Linked DNA regions of Homo sapiens: all the other regions are linked to region 1. Evidence: fine-mapped expression QTL. A gene starts in region 1. Each other region holds a variant in brackets. All regions are shown on one strand. Distances are between the middles of the regions. Region 1 holds the start of XXYLT1 (xyloside xylosyltransferase 1). Region 2 overlaps XXYLT1 (xyloside xylosyltransferase 1). Region 3 overlaps ACAP2 (ArfGAP with coiled-coil, ankyrin repeat and PH domains 2). Region 4 overlaps XXYLT1 (xyloside xylosyltransferase 1).

What was found. PIP is the estimated chance that this variant, and not a neighbour inherited with it, causes the effect.
Region 2: its variant is fine-mapped to the expression of XXYLT1 in whole blood (TOPMed, PIP above 0.99).
Region 3: its variant is fine-mapped to the expression of XXYLT1 in whole blood (TOPMed, PIP above 0.99).
Region 4: its variant is fine-mapped to the expression of XXYLT1 in whole blood (TOPMed, PIP above 0.99).

The regions. Positions count from the first base shown.
Region 1 is chr3:195,267,420-195,275,274 of GRCh38, reverse strand. XXYLT1 (xyloside xylosyltransferase 1) reads left to right here and starts at 4,116. Exons shown (of 4, transcript NM_152531.5): 1 at 4,116-4,720. The coding sequence starts at 4,217. ACAP2 (ArfGAP with coiled-coil, ankyrin repeat and PH domains 2) reads left to right here. Exons shown (of 23, transcript NM_012287.6): 23 at 1-530. RefSeq lists silencers at 3,486-3,715, 3,966-4,495, 4,656-4,835 and an enhancer at 4,086-4,877.
Region 2 is chr3:195,068,368-195,076,222 of GRCh38, reverse strand. It overlaps XXYLT1 (xyloside xylosyltransferase 1), which reads left to right. Exons shown (of 4, transcript NM_152531.5): 4 at 6,112-7,855. The coding sequence ends at 6,508. Among named protein-coding and RNA genes, the nearest start is that of XXYLT1-AS1, 22 kb to the left of the region's middle. RefSeq lists enhancers at 2,619-3,119, 6,692-7,855. The variant A/C (reference allele first, on the strand shown) is at 4,821.
Region 3 is chr3:195,347,877-195,355,731 of GRCh38, reverse strand. The region is part of intron 4 of ACAP2 (ArfGAP with coiled-coil, ankyrin repeat and PH domains 2); the gene reads left to right. It also overlaps the pseudogene RPL31P22. Among named protein-coding and RNA genes, the nearest start is that of XXYLT1, 81 kb to the right of the region's middle. The variant T/G (reference allele first, on the strand shown) is at 4,078.
Region 4 is chr3:195,082,972-195,090,826 of GRCh38, reverse strand. All of the region lies in intron 3 of XXYLT1 (xyloside xylosyltransferase 1), which reads left to right. Among named protein-coding and RNA genes, the nearest start is that of XXYLT1-AS1, 7.7 kb to the left of the region's middle. The variant T/C (reference allele first, on the strand shown) is at 3,821.

The sequences.
Region 1 (7,855 bases):
GTGGAGACAAAGCAAGATTTGATTACATAAACTTTTCTCTGCATTGGTCTTTTCACTATCTTATTTGCTAACTTTTCTTATTTTTCTTCAACCTCCCCACCCTCCATTTTTTGGATATTAAACAGGGAAAGCTTGCTACATTATAAAGATTGTTGGCACCATTTATTTTACACAAAGGCTAAAGGTTAACTTTTGGAAATGATGAGCTACTTTTATATATGTGTTTACTCATGCTTTGTGATATTTCTGGATCATTCCAGTCATAAAGACTTATTACATGTACTATTTCTTGCTACCTGTGAAAAGGTATATTTTAAAGAATGTATAACCAACAGTCCATTTACTTTTTATTAGTATGTAGAGGATTTGTATCTAATTCATGAATGTAGTTTTACAGTAGTTTGTCATTGTAAATGGAGCAAAGTACATTATCTTCTAAAATGTACATTATGTAAGAATTGTAAATATACTTAAGTAATTTGTATGCCAAAAAATTACAATAAGTCAATAAAGATCTCACCTCTGGCTTAGTTCTTTCATGGTGATTTACATTTTCTTGTGAAATACACTGTGAACATATCTGTCAACAGCAGTTATTTTTAAGGTACTATTATTTTTAAGGTATTTCTTCCCAGCCCTTTCAAATCCACATTCATCCTATTTGCTGATTACTTCAATCAAGAAATCCATTTGGATCTTTTAAGTATATAATTCTCTTTGTTCACAGAGCTGTTATAGCCCCTAATTCATTGGCAAAAAGATAAAAGGTTTTTTTTGGGGGGTGGGGGGAGGGGCTTGCTCTAAGTTTTTTCCATTATGATTGACATTAATGTTCCTAATCTATGCAGCACATTCCCATTTTATCCTTTTAGTAAACAGACACACACACGTTTGTCAGTGAATTGGGACTGAAGGAATGGAAGGTTGAAAAAACCAAACTGGAAGTGTATCACCTGCATTTGCTTTAAAAAAAAAAAAGCTAATTGAAAGCAGACACATAAACTTTTCAATATAACTTGCTTTATTCAGCTTCATTTCATTTTCAGAATAGTTCTGTGGAGAACCCACATCAATAGTCTATAAATATTTTAAGTGAAAACAGTTTAATTTTTCAATTATTGCAAACACAAAGCTTTTTGCTTGTGGAGAAATGTTAAGAAGAAGCAAGAGAATCATCCACAATTCCATTATCTTGTGCTGTCCAAAATGGAACTCACTAGCTACATGTGGCTACTTAATTGGAATTAGACAAAGAGTTCATTTCCTCAGTCGTACTGCTACATTTTAAGAACTTTATAGCCCCATGTGGCTAGTGACTATTGTTTTGAACAGGGGAGATTGTAGAATATATACATTGTCACAGGAAGTTCTACTGGATAGCACTGAGGGAGATACTGTTACTTTTTTGTGTATACCCTTCTAGACCTTTGGGTGTGTGTATTCATACATTTATATAATGGGATCATACAGTTACCCACTTCTTTCACTTAATAGATGGGGAGAACTTTATGGGAAATTTCAAGCATGTACAGGTAGAGAAAATCAATAGCTATAAGCTCATGGCTTATATTTGTTCTCCTACCCATTTTTCCCCTTTCCTGGACTTTTTGGAACCAGATCCTAGACCTTTCACCAGCAAATCATTCCGTATGTACATCTAAAAGTTGAGGACTTTAAAAAATCGTAACACTTCTTAAACTGTAAAACTACATAATCAATATTCAAATTGGTTTCTCAAATACGATTTTTAAAATAGATCGTGCAAATCAGAATTCACATAAGTTCCATACGTTGCAGTTGGTGAATATGTTTCTTAGTCTCTGTAGGTTTTTTTTTCCATTTGTTACCATTACTATTTTTTTTTTGGAATTGGGGTCTCGCACTGTCATCCAGGCTGGAGTCCTGTGGCGATCGTAGCTCACTGCAGCCTTGGACCCCTGAGCTCAAGTGATCCTCCCACCTCAGTCTCCCACATAGCTTGGAGTACGGGTATGAGCCACCTCACCCATTTGTTAGTTTTTTAAATTTCCACCTGCAGTTTGTTGAAAACATCACTTTTAATGACTGCATTATTTTAGCTTTAACCACTTTATTGATGACCATTTGATTCTGATTTTTTGCCATCATGAACCTAGCTTTGCTTTATTTTTATGTTTGTTTTTTGAGACAGGGTCTCGCTCTCTTTCGCCAGGCTAGAGTACAGAGGCACAATCTCGGCTCACTGCATCCTCTGCCTCCTAGGTTCAAGCGATTCTCTTGCCTCAGCCTCTCGAGTAGCTGGAATTGCAGGTGTCCGCCACCACACTGCCTACTTTTTTTTTTTTTTTGAGACAGGGTTTTGCTCTTGTCGCCCAGGCTGGAGTGCAGTGTTATGATCTCGGCTCACTGCATCCTCTGCCTCCTAGGTTCAAGCGATTCTCTTGCCTCAGCCTCTCGAGTAGCTGGAATTGCAGGTGTCCGCCACCACACTGCCTACTTTTTTTTTTTTTTTGAGACAGAGTTTTGCTCTTGTCGCCCAGGCTGGAGTGCAGTGTTATGATCTCGGCTCACTGCAACCTCCACCTCCCAGGTTCAAGCGATTCTTCTGCCTCAGCCTCCTGAGTAGCTGGGATTACAGGCGCCCGCCACCATGTCTGGCTAATTTTTTGTATTTTTAGTAGAGACGGGGTTTCGCCATGTTGGGCAGGCTGGTCTCGAACTCCTGGCCTAAGGTGATCTGCCCTCCTCGGCCTCCCAAAGTGCTAGGATTACAGGCGTGAGCCACCATTCCCGGCCTAAGCCACCATGCTTGGCCTTGCTTTATTCTTATGGTTAAATATTTTGAACATTCTTAAATTATTAGGAAGATTTTCTAGAAATAAAAATGCTGTTTCAATGGTTGAGTATATTTTTGAGACTCATCCAATGTGGTAGGCACCGTGTTAGGTACTGGGTATATTGTGGTTAATAAAAAACAAATGTATATTCTGTTCTCTTGGAGTCACGTGTTCTTGCAATGAAGAAAGATGAGACTAGGGTAGTACATATATTTAGGTGGCCCTCACAGAATTATTGAGGATGGCACTTAGCCCAGACACTGGATAGGAGGTATTTAGAGATCATTTGTGTAGGTAGTGACATGTAAGCCAAGGTCTGAAGCAGAGAGGTTGGATAATCCATGCAACCTTACAATGTGGAAATAACAGGAAAAACCGTTTACCTAATCTCTGGTCAGAAATCAGAGAACTTGGCCAAAGAACTGAAGGGTTACTGTACTTACTCAAGTTCTTTGTCTATTTAGACAGCATGCACAGCACTTGCACGTGTTTACTTAAAAACTACTGGTATAGCCTCAATTCTTAGAAGACTGAAGTTAGTACGTTTTTATCTAGTTAGCAGTGTGCAACTGCCTAGGGTCAAAATTGCTACTGGCTAGCTGTGTGACTTTGGGCACGTGACCTCGGCGTGCAAAACTCCCTGGTACCCTCAAGGAGGCTCTTGATAAAGTGTTAAAAGTCTGTTTATAAAACAAAAGTGGATGAATGTCGCCCTCCAGGGCTTTGCGGTGCTGGGGCTCGGGGAGCAGCCTCGCAGGTTCGTGCGGGCGGCGGGGGCCCCCTGCTGGCCACATCCTCCAGCCTCCCTCCGCTCGGCCTCCGGCGCGACGTGCGGCCCGGGCCATTTCCTCCCAGGGCGGGGGAAAAGGGAGGAGCTGCCGGTTTAAATTGCCTAGCTGCAGCTCGTGTGCAGGGAGAGGCCGAGACGGCTTAAAGCCTCCAAGAAATTGAGGGAAAAAAGGTGCAGAGATTAAAGTTTTACCTCTTGGTGCCTCCAGCTTCGCTTTTGGCTAACCTAAGTTCCTCTGTTCGGGCGCCTCCATTCCCTTCAACACTCAGCTTGGATATCCTCTGGGGCTCGCCGCGTAGGGCGCCATTTCTCAGCCGGGACAGCGGGCCAGCCCTCAGCACGCTGGAGTCCGGAATCCCCCCCTCCCAACGCCGGGCGCCGGATCCCACCCTAACCCCTCCTCTAATACCCTTGGAACCTAGGACCCAGCGGTTTCGGCACGCCCGGCCCCGCCCCTCCGCGCACCGGCGCCCGCGATTGGCTCCAGGCGGCGCGGCCCCGCCCCTTTCATGGCCGCCGCCTGGCGCCGGGGCTAAGTGGCCGCCGGCGTCCGGGTACCCGAGGGCTCTCCCGCGTTGCTGGCACCGCTGGCGCCGCGGTCTCGTAGCGCATGGGCCTCCTCCGAGGCGGGCTCCCATGCGCTCGGGCCATGGCGCGCCTGGGCGCTGTGCGCTCCCACTACTGCGCCCTGCTGCTGGCCGCGGCGCTGGCCGTCTGCGCCTTCTACTACCTCGGCTCAGGCCGGGAGACCTTCTCCAGCGCCACCAAGAGGCTGAAGGAGGCCCGCGCCGGGGCTCCCGCCGCGCCCTCGCCGCCCGCGCTGGAGCTAGCGCGGGGCTCCGTGGCGCCAGCCCCCGGCGCGAAGGCCAAGAGCTTGGAGGGCGGCGGTGCCGGGCCGGTGGACTACCACCTGCTGATGATGTTCACCAAGGCGGAGCACAATGCCGCGCTGCAGGCCAAGGCCCGCGTCGCGCTGCGCTCACTGCTGCGCCTCGCCAAGTTCGAGGCGCACGAGGTGCTTAACCTTCACTTCGTGAGCGAGGAGGCCAGCCGCGAGGTGGCCAAGGGCCTGCTGCGGGAGCTCCTGCCGCCCGCCGCTGGCTTCAAGTGCAAGGTGAGCGGGCCGCGGCTGGGGGCTCCCGGTGGGTGGCCCACCCCATCCTAGGCGAGGTCAGTTTGCGCTCCCGGAGGGGATCCGGGGAACTAGCGGGTAGGATCTTCCCTGAGCTGCCCGCTTGCAATGTAGTGTTCACAACCTGCGGGAGGGCTCGTTCGGGGGCGTGTCCGGGAGCCAGACGCCCTCAGCTGGTGCTGAGGAGTGGAGCTGCGTTTTTAATGACCGCCTCGTTTTCCTCTCCCCCAGTTAAGCGCAGCCCCCAGGAGAGTCCGCGCGCCCCCATTTTGCTAACGTTGCAGGGTTCAGCACTGCCTTCAGAGTCTGCACCTCTGTTTATGTTCCTCAGTTTTTGACTTCTGAGGATGGGACTGGTCACCAGTAGTCATCCTGAGCAACTGGAGAGGGCCTTGGTGAGGCCTCTGGAAGTGTTGAAGTTGCAGTGACACTTCTCATTGCTCTTAAGGTATTTCAGTAGGATCTGGTCAAACTCATTGTGAACCATCTTATCTCCTCTCTGTGTCCCTTTTTCCCCTTCCTCCAAGGGTCATGAACCCATTTAGAGAAGCCTGGAGTTCCTCCGAATGAGGAAGAGAAAGCTCAAGAGGAACAGATATGATCTGGGGAGAGCACAGCTGGCCGCCTTGTCCCAGGCTGGACCAGTCTGCCTCCATGACAGCTTCCATCTCTGTTTATCATCTGTCTTCACTGCCTGGCTCTCCTTGTCTGAGATGTGTTTCTGACATAGTGTGAATTGCCTAGGTCAAATTGCTTATTTGATTTTGACCTAATAGTTGTACAGAGGGGATCCGAGGCCAGATTTTAAGGAGTAGTAGGTAATATTAAAGGGTGGAGACTGATGTTGGTTGGGGAAGCATGCTGAGACAGGAGTTGTATTATGTGAGTGACTAGGGGAGCTGTTGCCAGGATCCTACAGGCTTCGGGAGTCTCTGATAGCTCCTTGTTGCCTACGGGGTGAAGTCCCAGTTTATTGGTAGGGCTGTTGTGTTGTGAGCCTGGTCCACTTCTCTGGCTTCACCTCTCCTCCTTTGTCTACATGCACCTCATACCTTAGCTATGTAGGGAGTGGGCCTTATACATGCTGTACTGTCTGCCCACAGTGTCCTCTTGGGCCCTTGGCCATTCTTTACTCAGCTTTCACCTCTCCTGAGAAAGTCCCTAGACCCTGGGACCTCTGAAGGTCCTCGCTGGAGGAGGAGCCTGGCAACCTGTCCCAGGTGATCCTAATGACCCTAATATTTGAGAAACTTTGCACTAGTTCACGGTAGAAAACTGAGGGCCCTTGGCCATAGGGTCAGTCTGGGCAGATCTTGGGATTTGACCAGGTCTCCAAACACCGCCTTGAAGATAGCATTGTCATCTCTTCTGGGCCTACTCTGCACCGTTGCCGGATCTCTGTCCCCTTGTCCCCAGCTCCCGCTGCAGCGCTAGCTGCACAGCCAGTGCTTTCCAGCCTACTTGCCTTTGCTTTTGTCATTCCCACTGTTGGGGTGCTCCTTCTCTCCATCTCCAAGTCTTGCCCATCTTCAGATACCATCCCCTCCTTGGAGCCAAGGAAGCGTCCCTTCTTTCCTTTTCTACTTCCCTGGTGCTGTGACTGTATCATGTCTTATCATCCATCCCTATGTACAATGCCTGGCACTCTTAGTTGGCACCAGAAATATTGGCCCAGGGGTAGATCCAGCCTCAGGGCCGAGCCCCTCCTGTCTTGGAGTAAGTGTTTCATGCTCGGACTACCCCACTTTACTGGGCCCAGTTCTGGCAGCCTCACTCAAGGCCTGGAGGCAGCTGCAAATGACCAGAGGGAACTGATACCTCCTCTGTTGAGGGGTGAGGGTTTAGTGTCTGGGGACTTCTAGCCAGATGTCAGTGATTGGATAAGGGGTTATCAGTCCTGGCATAAAATTGCTCCCGTTACTTCTTTTTTTTTTTTGTGAGATGGAGTTTCGCTCTTGTTGCCTAGGCTGGAGTGCAGTGGCACGATCTCAGCTCACTGCAACCTCTGCCTCCTGGGTTCGAGCGATTCTGCCTCAGCCTCTCGAGTAGCTGGAATTACAGGTGCCCACCACCACGCTGGCTAAATTTTTTGTTTTTTTTTTTTTGAGACAGAGTTTTGCTCTTGTCGCCCAGGCTGGAGTGCAACAGTGTGATCTCGGCTCACTGCAACCTCTGCCTCCAAGGTTCAAGTGATTCTCCTGGCCCAGCCTCCTGAGTAGCTGGGATTACAGGCGCCCGCCACCACGCCCGGCTAATTTTTTGTATTTTTAGTAGAGATGGGGTTTCATCATGTTGGCCAGGCTGGTCTCAAATTCCTGACCTCAGGTGATCCACCCACCTTGGCCTCTCAAAGTGCTGGAATTACAGGCGTGAACCACCGCGCCTGGCCTCCGTTACTTTGTTTTGTTTTGTTTTTGATAAGAATTCTTGCTATGTTGCCCAGGCTGGTCTTGAACTCCTGAGCTCAAGCAATTCTCTTGCCTTAGCCTCCTGCATAGCTGGGATTACAGGCACACACCACTGCACCTGGCATTCCCATGATTTTTGAGTTCATATTTTGTAAATTTTTCTGTTTGTGATGAAAAGTGCTCTTTTTTTCCTTTAAATGTGCGATTCTAAAAGGTTTGCTTCATTTTACTTGTGATTTAATTCTTCCTCAGGTTTGGAATATTCCTGAAAAGAACATATGTCACATGCCTTTCCTCTGTCTGGAGTTCTCCCTGCCTCCATCCTTGGTACTCAGCTTTCAGGTCTCGGCTTTGGTGTTCTTTCCTTGGTAAACCTTTCCTGAGCCCCCATTACACACTTTCAAACTCCAAGCACTGTTCCTTAGTAACATTTATCACAGTTGTATTTATATAATCGTTGGAGTAATTATTTGTCTTCCTTGCTAGACTCTAAACTCCTTAAGGGCACTGACATTGACGTGTCTTAAATGCTGCCTCCCTAGCACCTGACAGATGAGGGAATTTTATACTGGAATTGTTTTTTCAGTATTGACTCGGAAGAAGGAAACTAGAATTTCTCACTCTGGCTGTGCCAGAGCTGGAAGGGATTTGGAGTATATAGCATGACAGGTGAGGAAACTCGCCCAAGGCTTTCTGGAGAAGTTACTCA
Region 2 (7,855 bases), 200 kb after region 1:
CACTTCCCCGAGCCCCCAGACCTTCCTCCAGGCCCTCTTCCTTCCCTGAACCTCTGTTCTCTCAGGCTGTGCAGATGGTGCAGAGATGCCAGCAGTTGCAAAGCAGGGCCCTGGCAGCCTCCAGCGTGCGGGGAGAGGCTCCAGGAGGCGGAGGCCGTGGTGCTGGTTCTTTCTGGAGGGGAGGAGCTGTGGCTCATGTTGGAGGGAGGGCCTGGAGGGGAAGCCCTCTGCGGTGTGCCTCCCCACAGGGTCTCTGTGGGGCCCGGTGCCCCAGCAGTCCTCTCCTGTCCTGCCAGGCAGCCTGGTTGCAGCACTGAGGGCCAACCCCAGTGCCCACTCAGCCTGCAAAGCAACAGCCGCGCCTCGACCTCGCTTGCCCCTTCCAAGTTCTGGGGATGTTGTGGTTTGGCAACTCAGTTGCTGGCCTTCAAAGAGGGCTGGGGTTTGAAAACAAGCACATGTTTCTTAGGAGGTCCCACAGACGAGGGTGAGCACATGCCTGCCACCTGCTTAGTGTCCCTCCTATTTCCCCAGGCAAGTCCTGCCAGCCACTCGGGCACCCAGCTCTCCTCCAAGTGCTAGTGTGGTGAGCTTGGAGGACGTGGGCCCTGCTGGAGGGGAAAGCACAGCCTCTGCGCCTCCTGGCAGGCTGGCTTTGTCTGAGCGGTGCTGCCTCGCCTCACCACAGGGCTTGTTTTGGGTAGGTGGGAGGCAGCAGTTCCCTTTTCTGGGCAGAGGCATTTGTGGAAAAGCATAAATTATTTGCCTGGAAATGTGGAGTTGCCCTTTCAGCAGCGTGACCCTGGACAGGCCAGTTTTTGAGCCTCAGCTTCCTCATCTGCACAATGGGTATATGAACCAGGAGTCCCTCAGTCTTCAGGCTCTGGTAGACCGTGGCTCTATGAGGAGCATCTCTTAGTCCTACTGCAAATGGCCTGTGTGACGTTAGGAACACTTATTCTTTTTTCTTGAGACGGAGTTTCACTCTTGTTGCCCAGGCTGGAGTGCAATGGTGCAATCTCAACTCACTGCAACCTCTGCCTCCCGGGTTCAAACGATTCTCCTGCCTCAGCCTCCTGAGTAGCTGGGATTACAGGCGCACGCCACCATGCCCGGCTAAGTTTTGTATTTTTAGTAGAGACGGGGTTTTGTCATGTTGGCCAGGCTGGTCTCGAACTCCTGACCTCAGGTGATCCGCCCACCTCGGCCTCCCAAAGTGCTGGGATTACAGGTGCGAGCCACCGCTCCCGGCCTGGGAACACTTCTTACCTTCTCTGTCCAGTAGAGCTGGAGACCTCAGCCTGCTTTAGGTCTTGTTATCAAGAGATCCTAATAAGGGTCAGTTCTGAGCTGGCAGTAAGGACTGCTCTAGGGACACGGGTACTTAGAGCTCCGTGGTGGTCCTACAACTCCAGGATGTCCATGTCTTCTCCAGTTTGATACCACAGGGCAGTGGTTCCCCTAAAGGACTGAAGAGCTCGAGACTGCCCCACAGAACTTCAGCCTTAGCTCCAGGTAGGACCAAGATGCAGGGTCATGGGTCTGAAATTAGCCGACATCACCCAGCCAGGGCGCAGGGTGTCCGGAGAGCCTCTGGGCCTGGGTGGACTTGAAATGTCCCTGGATCACCCCAGAGGACCTGGCTGGTGTGGATGAAGTGCTGGACAGCTGCTGAGTGTTGCTTTTCCCTCCTGGACTCTCATCTTGGATGACTGGAAAACAAGGTCCCTTCCACGCCAAACGAGCTCATTGGGCCAGGCACACATGCATGGGTATGAGGGAAATCACGTTTCCGGGTTCCAGGCCTCACTGACTGCACAGCCTCTGGGCCGGGTGCTTCCTCTGGGAGGAGGCCCAGATGCTGGCCCTTCAGTGACTGCTCTCAAGGCTGAAGGACGCCCCAGAGGTACGCCTTGCGAGGCCGTGTGCTGAATCTCAGACCTCAAATGGAGCCTTCTTTGCCTGACAGTCTACAGCCTGAACTTAGCCTGAGTCAGCACAGGCTTCTAGAACCTTCCTGCAGAGTCTTGTGCAGACAGCCCAGGCTCAGCATTTTCCCATCCTCGCTTCCTCCCTCTTGGAGGTGGTGGTGGTGAACTCGACCTGAGGAGCTGAGAAAGGGGCAGGAGAAAAAAAATCACGAAGAGTCGGAGGCAAAAGGGCCTGTGGTTTGGAGTGGTGGGAGGAGGAGGTGGGAGGGCTGATGGCCACGTGTGCCCTTTACTGGGGAGGACGAGCCCTTAGATTCTCCAGCCCGGCTCTCTCGAGAGCCCTTAGCAGAGCGGCCTTGGTTGTGATCATCAGGGAAAGACTTGAAGCGAGGAAGTAACTGTGCTTTTCCAAATGACTTCAGATGCCCTTTTCCATAAAGATGGGTTTTCTTCATGAAAACTAGTTGACTAGCTTTTAATAGTCTTTTTTATGATTATTAAGTTATATTCAATGTTAAAAATTTAGAAAATGCATTTATGACTGGAAGAATGTTCTTAAAGCTTCTTAATTTTTATTTTCCCAAAGGGCCTCCTTGACTTCTGAAAAGACCCAATATTTACCAGGGACTGTCTGCGTGGGGGCTTGTTTTCCAGTTGAAATTATTTCTAAAGGGGTGAAAAAGGCTTATCCCCTCTACCGTGGGTCTCCAGGTGACTATGGAAGACAGGAACAAGACTCTCCACAGGCCGGACGGTTAGACAATCCAGATAGTTAGAGCAAAGTGGCTGGGTTGTGGGCATGAGGGGGGGAGGGGTTAGTCAGAGAAACTTCTGGATGCTCCAGGACTCAGAACCAAATACCTGCATTTATACAAAGGTTTCCTGCAGCCTCTGCACGTGCCACAGACAGTGCCCCTGAATATACGTTGTCAGCCCCAGACTCCTGTGAAGAAGGGCAGGGGTCTGGGACACTCACTGCCCTGCCTCGTAGAGGCCTCAGGTCTGAGCCCTAAGTTCCTAATGTGCCAGCATCACCCGATCACCCTGTCCCCTGGCCTCGGCCGGTGCCACCCAAATTCAGAAATAAGATTGAAATCCAAGCGCACCTCCTTGGAACCCTAGCCCGTGGAATCCGAGGCAGTCAGATCAAAGGGACCTCAGAGATCAGAAGCCCTGCCTGCGACAAACTGAGGACCTCTGTTCCCTTTCTGCAAAAATGCAGGCAGTAATGTCCCTGGGCTGCCAGGGAGAGGGAGCCGAGGTGGAGAGTGTGAGAGGGCTTCGTGACCCACGCTGTGCTGTTGCGTTGGGGGGATTGGCGGTACTGCCTGTTTAGGCCATTTTGCCATGGGATAGAAGTTCCTCGCACGAGCTCCAATACTGTCCACACCCCGTACCATTCCTTCTACCCCGAGGCTGATGCGATTCCTCTACGAGAACCAGCAGACACAGAAGCCAGAGAAACCCACCATTCCCTTAGGTGACTGCTCTGTCTTTCTGGGTTCATTTGGGGATAGTAGGGACGCCTTGAACAAGGGCCCCCTGAACATCGCTTTGGGTGGGGACAGTCATTGTTCCTTTTCAGGCTGTGTTTCTGCTGCAGCACACACACGGGGCAGCTTGCACGCCCAATTTCCTGTCCCTCCTTTCCTTCTCAGGCTGATGCCCAGACCAGTCCTTTCTGACCATCATCAAATACCTCTTCATCCTGATTGAGTGGTGGTGCTGAGCATTGTCCCCAAAGAGCCACTTGTGCTGTGGCCTTCTCCTGGAGGCATATTCTGTCCTCTTCTCTCTGCCTGCGGCCCCCATCTCCTGAGCCCAGCGAGCTCAGTGCTAGTTCACTGTTTGCTCCTCCTTGCTGCAGACACAGAAGATTTGGGAGCGTTCCTGCCGAGGTTGGTAAGGATACCTGGAACAGTGGGCGGCCTCTTTGCTCCCCACTTGCTAGGAGTAAAGCCGTTTAAAAAGACACCTGAGCCTCTCCGGGTTCCTGCTCCTCACTCAACCCCACAGTAGATCTGGTGGGGAGGTTGAGGGCTCAGTGAATCTGCAGGTGCAGCATCGTGTCCTCAGTGTCCTGCCCCCTGCTTCCACCCGGTGTCGACAGCTGCACGGTCCACCCCACGCCTGCCTTTCCATCGTTCCTCATCAGCCCTGTGATCTTTCCTGTGGCCCTGCTGTGCTGGTGCCCTGTGAGGTCCTGTGGACACAAGAGACTGCACGGGCCACACCCCCAGCTGGGTGAGTCCTCTCCCTCCTGGGTACTCTGGACAGTAAAGAAAGATGGACACGTGGGCTCCGTGGAGCATGAGGTAGTCCAGGACCTCGGCGGCCACAGGTCCTGCCTCCCTGCTTCTCGTGCCCTCCCTCCCTTTGGGTCTCTGCTCCACCTCGGTAAACGCTTCGTTCCCACCCCTCGAAGGGTAAATCGAGCTCCTTGGTGGTAAAGCACCCACTGCCCCTAGTCAGAGGGTCCCTCCTCTCTGATGTCATGGTGCCCTGGTCTGCCTGGTAGAATTTTAGCTGCTTTATAACCTGGTCCTGAAATGAACCACTGGGAAGAAATAGGGTAAAATGAACACACAGCTGCCACACTGCATCCCAACCCTGTGTGACCCTATCACCGCAGACTTTTGTGGCAAGATGACAGCATCTCAGTTTGCTTGAGAAGCTTATTTTTGCCAAGGCTGTTACCACCAGGCAGGCACCAGAGCTCGGTTCCACTCACAGCAGAACACAAGCAGTGGCCCTGTGGATTCCCCTGTAAGAATGTCCGGAGGGAATGCTTCCCCCTCGCCAGGATCAGACTCTTGGCACTCTCTGTGATACGTGAGACCTTGAGGAAGGTTCCTCCGTTCCCAGAAGCGGAGCAATGTGCTGGTGCTG[A/C]GAAGTGGCCCCTCAGGGCCACCCTGGGCAGGGTCTCCGGTTTTATTCCCCCGTACCTTCTGCTTCATCACGCAGATCCTATCCTGGGTTTGGGTGGGGAAGTCTCTCTGCGGGGGCCGGTGGGGCAGCATCTCCAGGCTGGGAGGCAGAGCTGGTTCTGCCACGATGTGTCCTCCCCGTGAGGACCCACTCCCACGCCTGTCCCTGCCACAGTGGGCCTCCTGATGGTCCTCCTTCCTCCAGGTCACCGGCACGATTGCTGTGGCCCCTCCTCTGTGGGTGTGGGCTTGGACGCCTCTCCCCTCCACCTGCACACCCCTTGCAGCACACATGAGGCTTAGCTATTAAAGAGGCTGGAGGACAGTGCAGCGCTTTAACCCTGGCCCTCACAGGGAGGTGTCTAGGTCTTTCTTCTCCCCTCCAGATGGAAGCATTTGGGTAGAGGACCTAGAAGAGGCTAACACTCCCTGAACTATGAACCTAGATTGGTTTCTAAATCTGCTGAGAGAAAAATTGAACTTGAAGTGACATTCCTTCTAAAGTAGACATCATCCTACATGGCTCTTCTACAGCTGTCTTTCACCCTAACCCATGGTGTGCCCTGGGCTGTCGCAGGCCCCCAGCCCCTGCCCAGCCTTTCTGAAGTGCCAGGCTTGGGGCTCAATGAATGAGCCTTGTTCTAAAGCAGAAAACAGTTCTGTTCCAGTCAGGGTTCAGCTGCCTGCGTCTTGATGAGATCTCTGTTCAGGATTGTGTCCCCTGCTTCTCTCTCCCTTCTCCTTTTCAAGATCACAGGTGAAGACAAGGGGGTGGAAAGTTCTACCTAGATTGCTGCTATCTTAAGAATGTGGACTTTGGAGCCAGATTGTCTGGGTTTAGTCCCTGCGTCTGCTGCTTACTAGGTGTGTGACTTTGGGCAAATACCTTGACCTCTCTGTGCGTCCGTTTTCTTGGCTGTGAAATGATGTATCATCTCAGAGCACCCATCCCCTGGGGTTGTGTGGGGAGTAAGTAAGCCGGTCTAGTATGGCGCCTGGTACATCCTCAGTCAATAATATCAATGTTGGCTGTGGTGAGGACGTAGCAGAGGATGGTAGAAAGAATCTGAGGCTTGGGGTCCAGAGCCCTGGGTTCAGGTCCCAGCTCTGCCACTTGCTGGTGTAGTGATGCGGATTCTGCACCCCGGAATGTGGCAGTGTTTGCATGCAGGCTGGCTGTGAAGACCCAGGGCAGCAGGCCGGCAGGCTGGTTCCCCTGCACACCGGACTAACTCTGTCCTCTCTCTCCACAGGCACACATTCTGGCAGTTCCGCCATGAGAACCCCCAGACCCGGGTTGGGGGCCCGCCCCCCGAGGGGCTGCCGGGCTTCAACAGCGGGGTGATGTTGCTGAACCTGGAGGCCATGCGCCAGTCCCCGCTCTACAGCCGCCTGCTGGAGCCGGCGCAGGTGCAGCAGCTGGCCGACAAGTACCACTTCCGCGGCCACCTCGGGGACCAGGACTTCTTCACCATGATCGGCATGGAGCACCCCAAGCTCTTCCATGTGCTGGACTGTACCTGGAACCGGCAGCTGTGCACCTGGTGGAGGGACCATGGCTACAGTGACGTCTTCGAGGCCTATTTCAGGTGTGAGGGCCACGTCAAGATCTACCACGGGAACTGCAACACTCCCATCCCGGAGGACTAGGCGCTCCCCGTGCCTTGCCCCCGGGGCCTCCAGATCTGGGGGAAGGACAGGGTTCCTTGGGACAGACCCAAGGGCAGTGTCTGACCCGCTAGAGAGACACCGCAGGGAAGTCCTGTGATTAAGGTGCTGAGACCTCCTGCCGGGCAGGTCACTGTGCTGAGGCCACCCGCCAAGGACTGGCCTGTGCACTGCTGGTGCTTGGGACCTTATTCCTCCAGGGAGCAGGCGACACAAAGGACACGCATGTCCAGTGGGCTGGGAAGCAAGCACTTGAAGAGAAGGAAGGGGAGAAAGGGTCCCCCTTGCTGTCTGCCTCTGAGGAATGGAAATCCTTTAGACCCGGCCTTTTTTGGACCAATATAAATTTAATTTAAATTGACAGCCTTCCATTTTTCGAGAAAGTACAAACAGAACTGCTTTAGCACCCATCGAGCCCCAAACGGGTAAGGTAAGCCAAGGTTTTAATGACCAGCCCAGTATCTAAGCTTCCAAACGAATGCCAGCCCATCACATACTCACCCTGGGAGGCTGCTGCACGCGCATTCTCCTGATGCTCACGTCACTTGGTGTAGGTTTCAGGATCGCCTCTTTGAGGAAGGACTTCAGGACCAACTGGGGCCTGCATAAGAAAACTTATCTCATTATTAGAGTACTCACAGCTTGTATCTCCCAGCTACATCCTAGAACCCCATTGTCCTTTATTCCACCAAACCAGCTCCAGGTGACCAGACTCTACTCAGAAAGCAAATTCGTCATCAAAGAACAGAGACTGGCCACCACAAGGACATGCAGGAGAACTGTCGGGACCAGGAAGACTCATTCCAAAAAGCCCAGGCCGGGCACAGTCGTCAAGCCTGTAATCCCAACACTTTGGGAGACCGAGGTGGGGGTATCGATTGAGCCTCGGAGGTCGAGATCAGCCTGGGAAACACAGGGAGGCCCCCATCGCTACAAAATATTTTAAAAATTAGCCAGGTGTGGTGGCTTGTGCTTGTTGTCCCGGCTACTTGGGAGGCTGAAGTGGGAGGGTGGCTTGAGTCCAGGAGTTCACTGCACTGAGCTGTGATCACACCACTGCACTCCAGCCTGGACGACAGAGTGAGACGTCCATCTCAAAAAAAAAAAAAAAACCAAAAAGGAACCCAGCAATTCCCAAGTGTGACCATGTGGGCTTGGAAGACATGTCACTCATGGGCTAGTAAGCATTCTAGTTTCTTTGTTTAAAAAATCCCCTTATCATACCACGTTAGACCGTAGACCTTAGCAGAAATTAAAGCGTCATTTCTTTTGATGGGGCCTCCTGTACGTAGGCTGCAGACGTGAAAGCCCCAGGGGTCCATTTGTATC
Region 3 (7,855 bases), 80 kb before region 1:
TTTGAAGTGCGTCTTAGCTTTCCTCCTTTCCTGAAGAGAGCAGAGATAGTGCTGCTTTAACTGTGGTCATACATGTATGAGGAATAACTTTAGTGTGAGCTGTTGGTTTTAAAGAGTCATATATTATTCTATGCACTTTTGTAAGTTCATTTTATAATGAGCAGATTGGTCAACTGACATTTTTGATTATTTGTAATACATGTGTTGCTTGGAATAATACTGTTAATTTCCAGAAATATAAGTGAACCTTAGCTTTTCTGTTGGTGGCTTTTAAACTTTTTATGATGGGAAAATGTGTGAATTTTCTCCTGGGAAAGTATAGACTGGAGACTTAGATACCAGTAGATGAATTGAGGAATTTCTGTGTAGCAGTTTAATATAGAAAAGAGTTAGCTGTCCATGAGGAAGGGCTTTAAGAACAACAATAACTACCAAAAAAAAAAAAAAAAAGAAGAAAAAGAAAAGAATTAGCTGTTAGATAGCTGTGGCTTGAGAATTGGCAAGTCAGAGACAGAACTGTTGCTTTATTGACAACATACTTTTCACACTAATGGAAGTATTAAAAGTATATAGCCTACATTATTGTGGCTGGGCACAGTGGCTCACACCTGTAATCCCAGCACTTTGGGAGGCTGAGGTCAGGAGTTCGAGATCAGGCTGTCCAACATGGCGAAACCCCGTCTCTGGTAAAAATACAAAAATCAACTGAGCATGGTGGCACATGCCTGTAGTCCCAGCTACTCAGAGGGCTAAGGCGCAAGAATTGCTCGAACCTGGGAAGTACAGGTAACAGTGAGCTGAGATCATGCCATTGCACTCCAGCCTGCGTGATGGAGTGAGACTCTTGTCTCCAAAACAAAGCCAGTAAATAGTCTAGATTACTGACATCTAATTTCATGAAATACTTGACATTCTATTCAAGTGTATAGAAAATTTAATTTTGGTAATGTTACATTTTAAAGGCAGTAGTATCCAGGATATATGTATGGGCCAAGAGTTCACGATGAAGTTGCTAAGAGCAACTGCAACAAAAGCAAAAATTGACAAATGGGATCTAATTAAAGAGTTTCTGCACAATCAAAGAAACTGTCAGCAGAGTAAACAGACAACCTATAGAACGGGAGAAAATATTTGCAAACTATTCATCTGATAATGCTCTTATATCCAGAATTTATAAGGAACTTAAATTATAAAGAAAAACACAACCCCATTAAAAAGCAGGCAAAGGACATGAACAGACATTTCTCAAAAGAAGACATACATGTGGCTAACACTCATATAAAAAAAGCTCAACATCACTGATCATTGGAGAAGTGCAAATCAAAACCACAATGAGATATACCATCTCACATCAGCTGGGTGAGATACCATTGCTGGGTATATAACCATAGGAATATAGTTCTATTATAAAGACATATGTATGTGTATGTTCATTGCAGCACTATTCACAACAGCAAAGACGTGGAATCAACCTAAATGCCCATCAGTGGTAGACTGGATAAAGAAAATGCATACGTACATATACACTATGGAATACTATGCAGCCATAAAAAAGAATGAGATCATGTCCTTTGCAGGAACATGGATGGAGCTGGAGGCCATTATCCTTAGCAGACTAACACAGGAACAGAAAACCAAATACCACATGTTCTCATTTATAAGTGGGGGAGCTAAATGATGAGAACACATGGACACATACAGGGGAACCACACATACTGTGGCTTATTGGAGTGGGAGGGTAGGAGGAGGGAGAGGATCAGAAAAAATAACTAATGGATAGTAGGTGTAATACCTGGGTGATGAAATAATCTGTATAACAAATCCCTGTGACACCCGTTTACCTATGTAACAAACCTCCACATCCTGCACATGCACCCCTGAACCTAAAAGTTAAAAAAAAGTTGAAAAGCAGAAAAGAGAAAAATGTTCTGCTTTTCTCTTTGGAATATAATGATGTTTTTTTAACAACTTTATTAAGGAATAATTGACATAAACTGCATAGTTACAGCATACAATTTGATAACTTTTGAGATCCACACATCTCCATGAAATCGCTACAAATAATTTAGTGAATATAACAATCATGCTTTAAAAGTTTTTCTTTGCCACTTTGTAATTTCTGTTTCTCTCCCTTCTTCCCTCATTCCTAGTCTGTCGTGAATCTGCTATCATTATTGGTTTGTTTGCATTTTCTAGAATTGTATGTAAATGGACTTTTGTAGTCTAGTTTCTTCAGTGTTATTTTGAGGTCCAATTATATTGCATGTTTCAGTCCTTCATTCCCTTTTTATTGCTCAATACGATTGCATTGTATGGATTTATCACAAGTTTTAAAATCCATCTACCTGTGGATGGTTATATTAGCTATCTACTGCTGTATAACAGATTATTTGAAAACTTAGTGGCATGAAACAACATGCATGTATTATCTTACAGTTTCTGGGCCAGGAATTTGGGAGTGGCTTAGTTGGGTGACTCTGACTCAGGAATTTCATGAGATTGCCTCAGTCTCTGGTCCTCTGACCAAGGATCCTCTTTGCAGGGATGCTTGAGTGTCCTTATGACATGAAATCTGGTTACTGCTAAAACAAGTGATCCAAGAGCAGCATGGGCAAACAGGAAGCTCCAATGCCTTTTTTTTTTTTTTTTTTAAAGACAGAGTCTCACTCTGTCATCCAGGCTGGAGTGAATGGCATGACCTTGGCTCATTGCAACTTCCGCCTCCCAGGTTGAAGCGATTCTTGTGCCTCAGCCTCCTGAGTAGCTAGGATTACAGATGTGCGCCACCACACCCAGCTAATTTTGGTATTTTTAGTAGAGTTGGGGTTTCACCATGTTGGCCAGGCTGGTCTGGAACTCCTGACCTCAAGTGATCTGCCCGCCTCAGCCTCCCAAAGTGCTGAGACACTGCATCTGGCTGGAAGCTTCAATGCCTTTTATAACCTGGTCTCAGCAGTCACACATTGTTACTTTCTTCATGATACTGTTTGCTAGAAGTAAGTCACTCCATCTAGCCCACACTCAAAGAGCAAAGAATTGGGGCTGCTTTTGAAGAAAGCAGTGTTAAAGAATTTGTTGTCATATTTTAAAGCTACCGCAATGGACTTTGGGGTTGTTTTTAGGTTTTGGCTATTACAAATAAAAATGCTTATTAAAATACATGTAAAAATCTGTGTAGGCATATAGTTTTATTTCTTTATGTGAATAGCCAGGTGTAAAACGGCTAGTTTGTAAGATAGTGTTATGCTTAAATGTTTACTATTTTTAAAGTGAAGACTGTAAGCCATTGCTAAGAGAAAATAAGGAAATATTTAATTTCTTTTATTTATTGTTTATATTAATTTTTAATACAGTCACGCATCATTTAACAACAGTGAAACATTCTGAGAAATGTGTTGTTAGGTGATTTCTTCATTGTGTGAGTATCATAGAATGTACTTATCACAAACCTAGGCAGTGTAGCCTCCTACACACCTAGGCTACGTGGTGTAGTCTATTGCTTTTACGCTGCAAACCTATACAGCATGTTTCTGTAATGAATACGTTAGGCATTTGTAACATAATGGTAGATATTTGTGTATTTAAACATAGAAAAAGTACAGTACAGATACAGTACTATAATTTTATGGGACCACCGTTATATGTGCGGCCTGTCTTTGACCAAAATGTCATTATGCGGCACATGACTGTTTTACATTTCTTTAAAGTGTTAATATCTGTAAAGAAATTAAAACCTACACAAATGTTGTTTTGCAAAGTGGATTGTGCTATTTTACATCAGCAGTGTACAAGAGTGCAGGGGTTCCACATGCTCAGCAACACTTGGCATAGTCACTTTCTAAAATTGTTTATGGTTTTAATTTGCATTTCCTTATTAATAAGTAATGATGTTGAGCATTTTGTTTCTTTGCCATCTATGGATCTTCTTTGGTGAAGTGTCATCTTTTGTTCATTAAAAAAATGGATTTAGGCCGGGCATGGTGGCTCACGCCTGTAATCCCAGCACTTTGGGAGGCCGATGCGGGCGGATCACGGATCAGGAGATCCAGACCATCCTGCCTAACACAGTGAAACCCT[T/G]TGTCTACTAAAAATACAAAAAATTAGCTGGGCGTGGTGGTGGGGGGCGCCTGTGGTCCCAACTGCTGGGGAGGCTGAAGCAGGAGAATGGCGTGATCCCGGGAGGTGGAGCTTGCAGTGAGCTGACATCACGCCACTGCACTCCAGGGTGACAGAGCAAGACTCCGTCACACACACACACACACACACACACACACACACACACACACACACGAAAAAGAAAAAATATGGATTTATTGGCCTGGCGTGGTGACTCACGCCTGTAATCCCAGCCCTTTGGAAGGCTGAGGCGGGCGGATCACTTGAGGTCAGGAGTTCATGACCATCCTGGGCAACATGGCGAAACTCTGTCTCTACTAAAAGTACAAAAATTAACTGGCGTGGTGGCATGCCCCTGTAATCCCAGCTGCTTGGGAGGCTGAGGCAGGAGAATCACTTGAACCTGGGAGGCGGAGGTTGCAGTGAGCCGAGATCACACCACTGCACTCCAGCCTGGGCGACAGAGCAAGACCCTGTCCCCCGCCCAAAAAAAAAAAAGGATTTATCTTCATATTTACTGAGTTGTTATATGTTTTGCAGATATTTTCTTCCATGCTTTGGCTTGCCTTTTTCATTTTTGTAGCAGTGTTTTTTAAAGATCAAACTTTTTTTTTATGAAGTCAGTTTATTGATTTTGTTCTTTTGTAGTTTTCTTTTGTGTTCTGTTAGGAAATGTTTGCTTAACCCTATTCAGTAAGATTTTTTTCAATGTTTTCTTGTGGAAGTTTAGGTCTATGATCTATTTCAAGTTAAATTTTATAAATGTTCTGTGGTAACGGTTGAAGTTCTTTTTCCTCTCTATTATTATTAAATTCTTTGCATGTGGCTCTCCAGCTTGCTCTGTACATTTTCCCATCTTTATTGGCACCTTTTGTAAAAAAAATAAATGAATAAAAGCTGACCATATGCGTGGGTAATTTCTGCTTTATTGATCTTTTTGCTTGTCTTTTTTCTTTTTTTTTTTTTCCTGAGACAGTCTTGCTTTGTTTTCTGGGCTAGAGTGCAGTGAAATGAAAATGACTCACTGCAGCCTCCACCTCCTGGGCTCAAGTAATCCTCCTGCCTTAGCCTCCTGAGTAGCTGGGACCACAGGCACATGCTACACCCCTGGCTAATTTTTTGAATTTTTGTCGAGATTGGGGGGTCTCACTTTGTTGCCAAGGCTGGTCTCCAACTCCTGGGCTCAAGTGATCCTCTCAAACTGTTGGGATTACAGACGTGAGCCACTGTACCCAGACTTTACCTGTCTTTATACAGTACCATACTTCATTGATTACTGTAGCTTTCATAGTAAGTCTTGAAATCAGGTAGTATGAGTATTCTAACTCTTTTCCTCTTTTTCAAAGTTATTTTGGCTATTCTAGGTCCTTTATGTTTTCATATAACTTTTAGAATCAACTTTTCAGTTTCTACTGAGATTTGGAGTGGAATTGCGTTGAATGTATAGATCAATTTGAGGTGAATCAACATTTTGCTAATAATAAGTCTTCTAATCTGAATAGTATATGTGTTACTCAAAGTAGAGGGCCATGATTCTGTCTATTTGTGTGTGTATGATTTGCTCACTTTATTTGACAATCAGTGGTTAGTTCTTGTCCACACTGACTTTCGACAGATTTTTGAAAGTGGTGACAGACACATAGGTAATCAATGTATAGAGCTTGTTTGGTGAATGTTCAGCCTCATCATGTTTTCTGGAAAACCACATATGGGATCCTATGAGATATTGCTTGTTCCTTTGTTCCAGACAGCTTTGTTTTGCCTGGTGTCAATGCGCACATCTAGAATTCCCATCTCCTTCATGGCAAATTTCTGGATCTCTTTGAGTGCCTGAGGGCCATGCTTCTTGAAGCCCACTCCATGGATGTGCTTCTGAATGTTGCTGGTGTACCCTCGGGTCACCTTATCGATGGCAGGATGTTTCTTCTTGCCGCCCATCTTTGTGGAGCCGTTCTGCTGGACCCAAATTAGAAAAGAAGAGCATGAAAGATTGTCTCCATTTGTTTTTTTTTTTAATTTCTCTGAGCATGTTTTGTAGTCATCACTGTGCAAGTCTTGCATATTTTTTGTCAAATTCATCCTTAAGCATTTCCTATTTGTTATTATAAATGGCTTTTTTTGTTTGTTTGTTTTCAGATGGAGTTTCGCTCCTGTTGCTCAGGCTGGAGGGGCAATGGCGTGATCTCGGTTCACTGCAAGCTCTGCCTCCCGGGTTCAAGCGATTCTCCTGCCTCAGCCTCCCAAGTAGCTGGGATTACAGGGATGTGCCACCACGCCCGGCTGATTTTGTATTTTTAGTAGAGACGGGGTTTCTCCCTGTTGGTCAGGCTGGTCTCAAACTCCCGACCTCAGGTGATCTGCCCGCTTTGGCCTCCCAAAGTGCTGGGATTACAGGCGTGAGCCACAGCGCCTGGCCAGTATTTTTTTTTTAATGTTCAGTTTCTATTTGTTCATTGCTGGTCTTAGAAATACAACTGATTTTTGTATTTTGACTTTGTTTCTACAGCCTTCTTAAACTCACTTATTAATTTTAGCAGTTTTTTTTTTGCAGGTTCCATAGTGTTATCTATAGAGCTGATCACATCATCTGTGGATAAAGACAATTTTATATTCTTCCTTTCTAATCTGTATGCTTTTTATTTCTTGTATGATTGCATTGCTAGAATTTCTAGTGTAATGTTGAATAGAAGTGATGAGTAGGCATTCCTGGCCTTGGTCCTGATCTGAGGGTGAAAGTAGCCTTTTGCCACTAGCCAGGATGTTAGATACAGATTTTTCATATGTCCCCTTTATTACGCCAAGGAAGGTACCTTATATGTCTATATTCCTGAGAGTTTTTAAAAATCAGGAAGGGAAGATTTTTGTTGCAGTGCTTTTTTGTGTCTGTCATACAGTTTGTTTTTTAAGTCTGTTAACATGGTGAATTATGTTGATTTTTTTGAATGTTAAATCCATCTTTCATTCCTGGAATATATCCCAGTCGGTCATGATGTATTTTCCTTCCTATGTATTCTTATGTCATTACTATATATTGCTAAGAATTTTGGCATCTGTATTCATGAGGGATACTGCTTCGTAGCTTTCTTTTCTTACAGTGTCTTTGGTTTTGTTCTTCCGTTTTCTCAGAGAATAGATTTTCCGATAGATTTTTTTTTTGAAGAGTTTGTGTAGAAGTACTGTTCTTTCTACCTTTCAATGTTTGGTAGAATTCAGCAATGAAGATGTGAAGACATCTTTGTGGAGTTTTTCACATTTTTTCTTTTTATTTATTTTTAATTTTTAATGTATTTTCTTTGTAGGATGTGTTTTCCTTTTTATTTTTTAAGGTATGTGTGCCATTTCTTTCTGATATTTTATAATTAGAAGTTGAAACAGCTTTACAGTTGACATCCATATACTCACCCCAAAGGTATATTATGCTGCATTTGCTTTATCACATATCTATTCATTTATCCTTCCCTCTATCCATGCCTCAATATTATTAATGCATTTAAAAATAATTTATAGACAAAAGAACATTTCTTTCTCAAATACATTCCCAGGTTTAGGTTTTTTTTTTTACAAGTTTTCTTTTTTCTTTTCTTTTCTTCTTTTCTTTCGAGATAGGATCTTACTCTGTTGCTCGGGCTAGAGTGCAGTGCAGTGGCGTGATCACAGCTCACTGCAACCTTGAACTCCTGGGCTCAAGTGATTCTCTTGCCTTAGTCTCTTGAATAGTTAGGACTACAAGTGTGTGCCA
Region 4 (7,855 bases), 180 kb after region 1:
TATTGCGTCTATTTGATTCTTCTCTCTTTTTTTCTTTATTAGTCTTGCTAGTGGTCTATCAATTTTGTTGATCCTTTCAAAAAACCAGCTCCTGGATTCATTAATTTTTTGAAGGGTTTTTTGTGTCTCTATTTCCTTCAGTTCTGCTCTGATTTTAGTTATTTCTTGCCTTCTGCTAGCTTTTGAATGTGTTTGCTCTTGCTTTTCTAGTTCTTTTAATTGTGATGTTAGGGTGTCAATTTTGGATCTTTCCTGCTTTCTCTTGTGGCATTTAGTGCTATAAATGTCCCTCTACACACTGCTTTGAATGCGTCCCAGAGATTCTGGTATGTTGTGTCTTTGTTCTTGTTGGTTTCAAAGAACATCTTTATTTCTGCCTTCATTTCGTTATGTACCCAGTAGTCATTCAGGAGCAGGTTGTTCAGTTTCCGTGTAGTTGAGTGGTTTTGAGTGAGATTCTTAATCCTGAGTTCTAGTTTGATTGCACTGTGGTCTGAGAGATAGTTTGTTATAATTTCTGTTCTTTTACATTTGCTGAGGAGAGCTTTACTTCCAAGTATGTGGTCAATTTTGGAGTAGGTGTGGTGTGGTGCTGAAAAAAATGTATATTCTGTTGATTTGGGGTGGAGAGTTCTGTAGATGTCTATTAGGTCCGCTTGGTGCAGAGCTGAGTTCAATTCCTGGGTATCCTTGTTGACTTTCTGTCTCCTTGATCTGTCTAATGTTGACAGTGGGGTGTTAAAGTCTCCCATTATTAATGTGTGGGAGTCTAAGTCTCTTTGTAGGTCACTCAGGACTTGCTTTATGAATCTTGGTGCTCCTGTATTGGGTGCATATATATTTAGGATAGTTAGCTCTTCTTGTTGAATTGATCCCTTTACCATTATGTAATGGCCTTCTTTGTCTCTTTTTATCTTTGTTGCTTTAAAGTCTGTTTCATCAGAGACTAGGATTGCAACCCCTGCCTTTTTTTGTTTTCCATTGGCTTGGTAGATCTTCCTCCATCCTTTTATTTTGAGCCTATGTGTGTCTCTGCATGTGAGATGGGTTTCCTGAATACAGCACACTGATGGGTCTTGACTCTTTATCCAATTTGCCAGTCTGTGTCTTTTAATTGGAGCATTTAGTCCATTTACATTTAAAGTTAATATTGTTATGTGTGAATTTGATCCTGTCATTATGATGCTAGCTGGTTATTGTGCTCGTTAGTTGATGCAGTTTCTTCCTAGTCTCGATGGTCTTTACATTTTGGCATGATTTTGCAGCGGCTGGTACCGGTTGTTCCCTTCCATGTTTAGCGCTTCCTTCAGGAGCTCTTTTAGGGCAGGCCTGGTGGTGACAAAATCTCTCAGCATTTGTTTGTCTGTAAAGTATTTTATTTCTCCTTCACTTATGAAGCTTAGTTTGGCTGGATATGAAATTCTGCGTTGAAAATCCTTTTCTTTAAGAATGTTGAATATTGGCCCCCACTCTCTTCTGGCTTGTAGGGTTTCTGCCGAGAGATCCACTGTTAGTCTGATGGGCTTCCCTTTGTGGGTAACCCGACCTTTCTCTCTGGCTGCCCTTAACATTTTTTCCTTCATTTCAACTTTGGTAAATCTGACAATTATGTGTCTTGGAGTTGCTCTTCTCGAGGAGTATCTTTGTGGCGTTCTCTGTATTTCCTGAATCTGAACGTTGGCCTGCCTTGCTAGATTGGGGAAGTTCTCCTGGATAATATCCTGCAGAGTGTTTTCCAACTTGGTTCCATTCTCCCCATCACTTTCAGGTACACCAATCAGACGTAGATTTGGTCTTTTCACATAGTCCCATATTTCCTGGAGGCTTTGCTCATTTCTTTTTATTGTTTTTTCTCTAAACTTCCCTTCTTGCTTCATTTCATTCATTTCATCTTCCATTGCTGATACCCTTTCTTCCAGTTGATTGCATCGGCTCCTGAGGCTTCTGCATTCTTCACGTAGTTCTCGAGCCTTGGTTTTCAGCTCCATCAGCTCCTTTAAGCACTTCTCTGTATTGGTTATTCTAGTTATATATTCTTCTAAATTTTTTTCAAAGTTTTCAACTTCTTTGCCTTTGGTTTGAATGTCCTCCCGTAGCTCAGAGTAATTTGATCGTCTGAAGCCTTCTTCTCTCAGCTCGTCAAAGTCATTCTCCATCCAGCTTTGTTCTGTTGCTGGTGAGGAACTGCGTTCCTTTGGAGGAGGAGAGGTGCTCTGCTTTTTAGAGTTTCCAGTTTTTCTGTTCTGTTTTTTCCCCATCTTTGTGGTTTTATCTACTTTTGGTCTTTGATGATGGTGATGTACAGATGGGTTTTTGGTGTGGATGTCCTTTCTGTTTGTTAGTTTTCCTTCTAACAGACAGGACCCTCAGCTGCAGGTCTGTTGGAGTACCCGGCCCTGTGAGGTGCCCCGCTGGGGGGTGCCTCCCAGTTAGGCTGCTCGGGGGTCAGGGGTCAGGGACCCACTTGAGGAGGCAGTCTGCCCGTTCTCAGATCTCCAGCTGCGTGCTGGGAGAACCACTGCTCTCTTCAAAGCTGTCAGACAGGGACCTTTAAGTCTGCAGAGGTTACTGCTGTCTTTTTGTTTGTCTGTGCCCTGCCCCCAGAGGTGGAGCCTACAGAGGCAGGCAGGCCTCCTTGAGCTGTGGTGGGCTCCACCCAGTTCGAGCTTCCCGGCTGCTTTGTTTACCTAATCAAGCCTGGGCAATGGCGGGCGCCCCTCCCCCAGCCTCGCTGCCACCTTGCAGTTTGATCTCAGACCGCTGTGCTGGCAATCAGCGAGACTCCGTGGGGTAGGACCCTCCGAGCCAGGTGCGGGATGTAATCTCGTGGTGCGCCGTTTTTTAAGCCCGTTGGAAAAGCGCAGTATTCAGGTGGGAGTGACCCGATTTTCCAGGTGCGTCTGTCACCCCTTTCTTTGACTCCCTTTGAAAGGGAACTCCCTGACCCCTTGCGCTTCCCAAGTGAGGCTTTGCCTCGCCCTGCTTCGGCTCGCGCACGGTGCGCGCACCCACTGACCTGCGCCCACTGTCTGGCACTCCCTAGTGAGATGAACCCGGTACCTCAGATGGAAATGCAGAAATCACCGTCTTCTGCGTCGCTCACGCTGGGAGCTGTACACCAGAGCTGTTCCTATTCGGCCATCTTGGCTCCTCCAGTAGCATCTAATTTTAATGCCCGCTTTGATCTGGCTGTTAAAAATTCCACTCTTTATGTTCATTCAAATTCCAGTTGGCTGTTCTGGGTAAGCCCAGGCCCCAGTGCCCTATCCGGAGAGAGCTGAGAAGTTGCAGGCCCTGCGTGCAGGGAGCCTGACTGCCTTGTCTCTGTGCTCTACCAGCTCCAGGCATACCTGTGTTGATACCTGAATAGAGCGCGCAGTGGGGAGAGACAGGGAGGGTAGCTCAGATGCTTTTCTGCTTTCACAGGGAGCACCCCAAGCACAGCAGATTTTCAAGAGATTTATCTGGAAGGCCTGGAGAAGCAACTCAAGCACAAGGGATCTGAGGAGGAGCCAGGGAGCACATTTCCAGTTTAAAGGGGAAAAATGTCTCCCTGGAGAGTGGGTACAAACGGGAAGAGGGCGGAAGAGGAGCTCCAGGGCCACACGCAGCCTGGCAAGGGCAAGGCCGGCTGTGTCCAGAGGAGCAGGAAAGGCGGGTTTGCTGCAGGCCACCTGGAGAGACGGTGGCGTGTCAACGGGCCACACGGGCAGTGCCTCCCAGCCCCCTTACTGCTCCCCGCAGCCTGCCCTGAGTTTAGAGAAGCTGCACCGAGGCAGGAGGAGGTGACCACAGTGCTGCCACCAAGGCGACCTGGAGC[T/C]GGGAAGGCCTAGGAGGCCACTCTCCCTCCTTGTGGTACAGGTGGGAGGTATCGGGGAGGGGCCTGGCCAGTGTCATCATGCAAGTCACTGATCATGATTAGAACAGCCACTGCCACTGACCCCATAGCCAGAATGCTCAAGACAGAAGCCAGGACCCGGAGCTCTTTGTCCCCCTTCATCACCTACATGCATCCGTTCTTAGAGCTAGTCATACACCTGCTAAGTATCTCCTAAACCCTTTGCTTGTCTCCATCCTTGGCACTGCCACCCTCCCCCCCATCACCAAAGCATCCTCCTGCCTGGTCTTGCTGCTTCCAGCCCTTCCTCCTCCATGCCAGTGCCCACCCAGCCAGAGTGACCTTCCTCATACCTCGCTTCAAACCTTTTGTTCCCTTTAGCAGCAAGGTCAGCTTCCCTGACCTTCCTCACAGGGCCCATCCTAAACTGGCCCTGGCTCATAGTCAGGCCTCTGACCCCACAGCCCCTGCCCCTAACCACTGTGTTTGTTGAATACAACTGGATAGACTTCTCCCCTACAGGTCTGTGGTCTCTGCTGAAATGCATTCACATGCATGGAGACAGGGAAACAGCCTCTGTTCCAGGGAAGCAGGGGTAGGGGAGCGGCCGAGACGCCAGACCTGGCTACCTTTGATAAGTTGTTTATTTTCTGAAGCAGACAGTTCTGATAAAGCCGTCGTAATGATGCTCCTTGATCCAACCTAGCACGATAGGAATCTGAGCTGGCCTGTCAGAAGGACAGATTGTTTTGTGGATTTTCTTCCCTTAAAAAAAAAGAAAAATTTAAAAGCAAGGACAGTGCTGTAGAGTGCTGAGCTGTAAGGCTTCGAGGCACACAGCGCGGCCAGCTGTGGGGCAGGCTGGGGGCAAGCTGGGTGTTTGGGGGTGCTGGAAACCAGGTCTGTTTTGCCCAGGTGTGCTCTGTGTGTACAAATGGCCTTTAATGCAGCTGCCCCTGTCCACAGGCCCCAGGCAGTCCTTGAAAGAGAAGCTTGAAAAGTCAAGTTTGGGTCTTCTGCAGCTCGGGCACCACCGAGTCATAGTGAGTGTTGGCCTCCGCAAGGCCTGACAGCACAGAGGACAGAGGTGAGTGGGGGCAGCTGCCTCAGGGGCTAGCCTCGGGGTGGGGGAGGAGGCTAGCCCAGCAAGCTTTTGAGGCACCTCTTTCCTGTGTTGGGTATGAGGTGAGTGCTCAGAGCAGTGGCTCTGTCACCACAGTCGAAGGACAGTGAGGCTAGTGGCGACCTGACGGTTTTGAACCAAACTCTGGGCCAGCCCCTGGTGGAATGGAGTGGTCTCGCCGCATCAGTCTGGAACTCTACTAGGATTGTCACCAGACACGGTTGTGGCTCGCGGCTGCCCACCGCGGCCCGCAGGATGACTGGGCTCTTGGAGCTGTGAGGGAGCACAGGAGCTAAGCTCCTGCTCCTTTCTCTCTGACCGCACTGCTGTGCTTCTCGAGTAGAACTGGGTGGACTCCCCCCTCCCACCGCGGTCTCTGGTGAAATGCGCTGGCATGCTTAGACATGGGGATGGAGGCTCCATTCTAGGGAACCAGGGATGGGAGAGTGGCAGAGATGCCAGACCTGGACACCTTGGGTGAGTTGCGTATTTTCTGAACCAGCTTGGAGCCGGAGCGGCAGGGCCAGGGGTGGGGACCAGGACTGTGACACTGGTACTGAGTCACCATTCCCAAGAGGTTTGGAGAGGTCGGAAGGGGTGTTGAGCCAAAGGGCAAATCCAGATATTCTCTCTCCAAAGCCCGTGCTCCTCTGAACTGTTCTCCAGGGACCTCACTCAGCCCCTTTTGTCCCCAACTTGAACTTTCATATGGCAATCATTTCTTTTCCTACTTGACCTCGTGCAAGGAGAGGATTTAGAGCACTGTAACTCCCATGGGGGTCATCCTTGCTTGGGAGAAGGTTACGTCCACGTGAAGACTCTGCGGCTGCTCAGATGAACCACACACTCTGGAGGTTTTTGGCATTTCGAGGGTCTGGAAGTGGCTGCCTTGCTAGGCCTCCCTTTCCTACCCTCAGCTTCTGCAACTGGCAGGAGCTGCTGTCTTGGGCACCATTAGAGAAGCTCCCCTGCCAAGAGCCAAGGTGTACTGTCCCCAGCATGGAGAATGGTCCTGCCATCAGAGTGGGCTCTCCAGGATGAGGGTGTCTGTGTGATTCACTGTGCTCTTCACATCCTGGACCCTGAAGCCTAATTGAATGAATGAATCCCTGGGGTTGGGTTTCTGGGGCCGATGGAGTCCTGTGATCGTGTGTAGTGGTGGGAGTTTTGCCTAGAACATCCTTGGGTGGTTTAACTCACTAAAATACAGCAAGTGAAGAACAGCAGGCTGCAAGGGCTGACCTAAGTATTTTAGGGAAAGAATTGGACCTCTGAAAAGAGTACGGTTTACTTTGCTCAAAATCTGGGTTGCATGAAATACATTACACTGAGGCTGCCATCTCGCTGGTGGGAAAGGCTGCAGGCAGTCTTGTGGTGCCCTAGCGAGGGTGGACTTTATGTCCTAGCTGGGCAGCCTTGCCCAGGTGGCTTCCATGCTCCATTTTCCTGGGTGATCTCTATAGGTTTTTTTCAGCGAGAAGATTTTGGGTCTAGGGCCAGGGCCCTGACTTGAATCGGGCCTCCTGCCTCTAAGTATCCCTGGGGCAGGGAGCAGCCTAGCTGATCCCTGCCATCTTCCCATCCTCACCCACAGCCTGCTCTGTGGTTGGAACTGGCCTGATGCAATTCAGACCTCATAGCCTGTTTTCTGCTTTTCTGCTTTTCTGCCTTACCAGCCGGACCTTCCCAGAGAACCAAAGCCCGCTAGGAATCCTTTCTGTGATGTTATTTCTCACTCCAGCTCTGAACTTGGTGAAAGCACAGGAGATGAGCTCTTTCTGAGTTAATGCAGCAAAAGGCAGAATGTGTGACCATCAGCACATCACTTTTTTTTTTTTGAGACCGATTTTCACTCACTGTCACCCAGGCTGGAGTGCCGTGGTGCAATCTCGGCTCGCTGCAACCTCTGCCTCCTGGGTTCAAACCATGCTCCTGCCTCAGCACCTTGAGGAGCTGGGACTACGGGTGCCTGCCACCGCGCCTGGATGATTTTTGTATTTTTAGTAGAGATGGAGTTTTGCTGTGTTGGCCGGGCTGGTCTCAAACTCCTGACTGCAAGTGATCTGCTTTCCTCGGCCTCCCAAAGTGCTGGGATTAGCGGCATGAGCCACTGTGCACCGCCAGGCGCAGTAACTCTCTGGGCCTCCATTTCCTCGTCCGTAAAATGGAAATAATACTGACCGTAGGTAGTTGTGAGGAATTGAGATAATGTACATATAGCTGGGTAATGATTCCTGTGAATGGGGAGAGGTGTTCTTCTCCTCCTCCTCGTCATTTTTCTGGGCATGGTGCTTGTCCATAATAGGCTTGAACAAATATTTATTGCCAGCCTGGATGTAGGGATGACCCTGACTTCTGAGGAGGAGATGAGGAGAAGGACCTCTGGTGTCAGGAAAGCCTGAGGAGAGGCCCCAGGGATCATCTCAGCAGGGAGGGTGTTGACCAAAGGAAAAAGTCAAGCTTTTAAAGAATTAAGTTCGTTTTATTCAGAAGTTTCCTGAGGACTCCAGCCTGGGAGGAGTCTTTCGAGAGGTTCTGTCAGGCTGCCCCAAGACTGTTTCAGCTCACAGTTTACACACAGGTAGACAGGCTCGGTATACGCAGGGGGTTATCAAGGCTTACGTGCAAGGGTGCATCTGGTTAGAGACTCCAGAAGCGACATCACTGACCCCTTCAGATGCGATCTTATGCGTAGGAAAAGGCAAGCACTAGGGTCATGGATCTTTTAAGGAATATAGTGACTCAGGAAGAGACGCTGGGGGCCGGGCGCTCTATCCTGTTTTGTCTTCACTTCATCCTCCGGAGGGTTGAGCGTTGTCACAGAGTCAGGGGCTTTGTGGAATTCGGCTGGCCAGCAGAAATGTGCAGACATGGCTTCTTAAGTTTGCAACTTT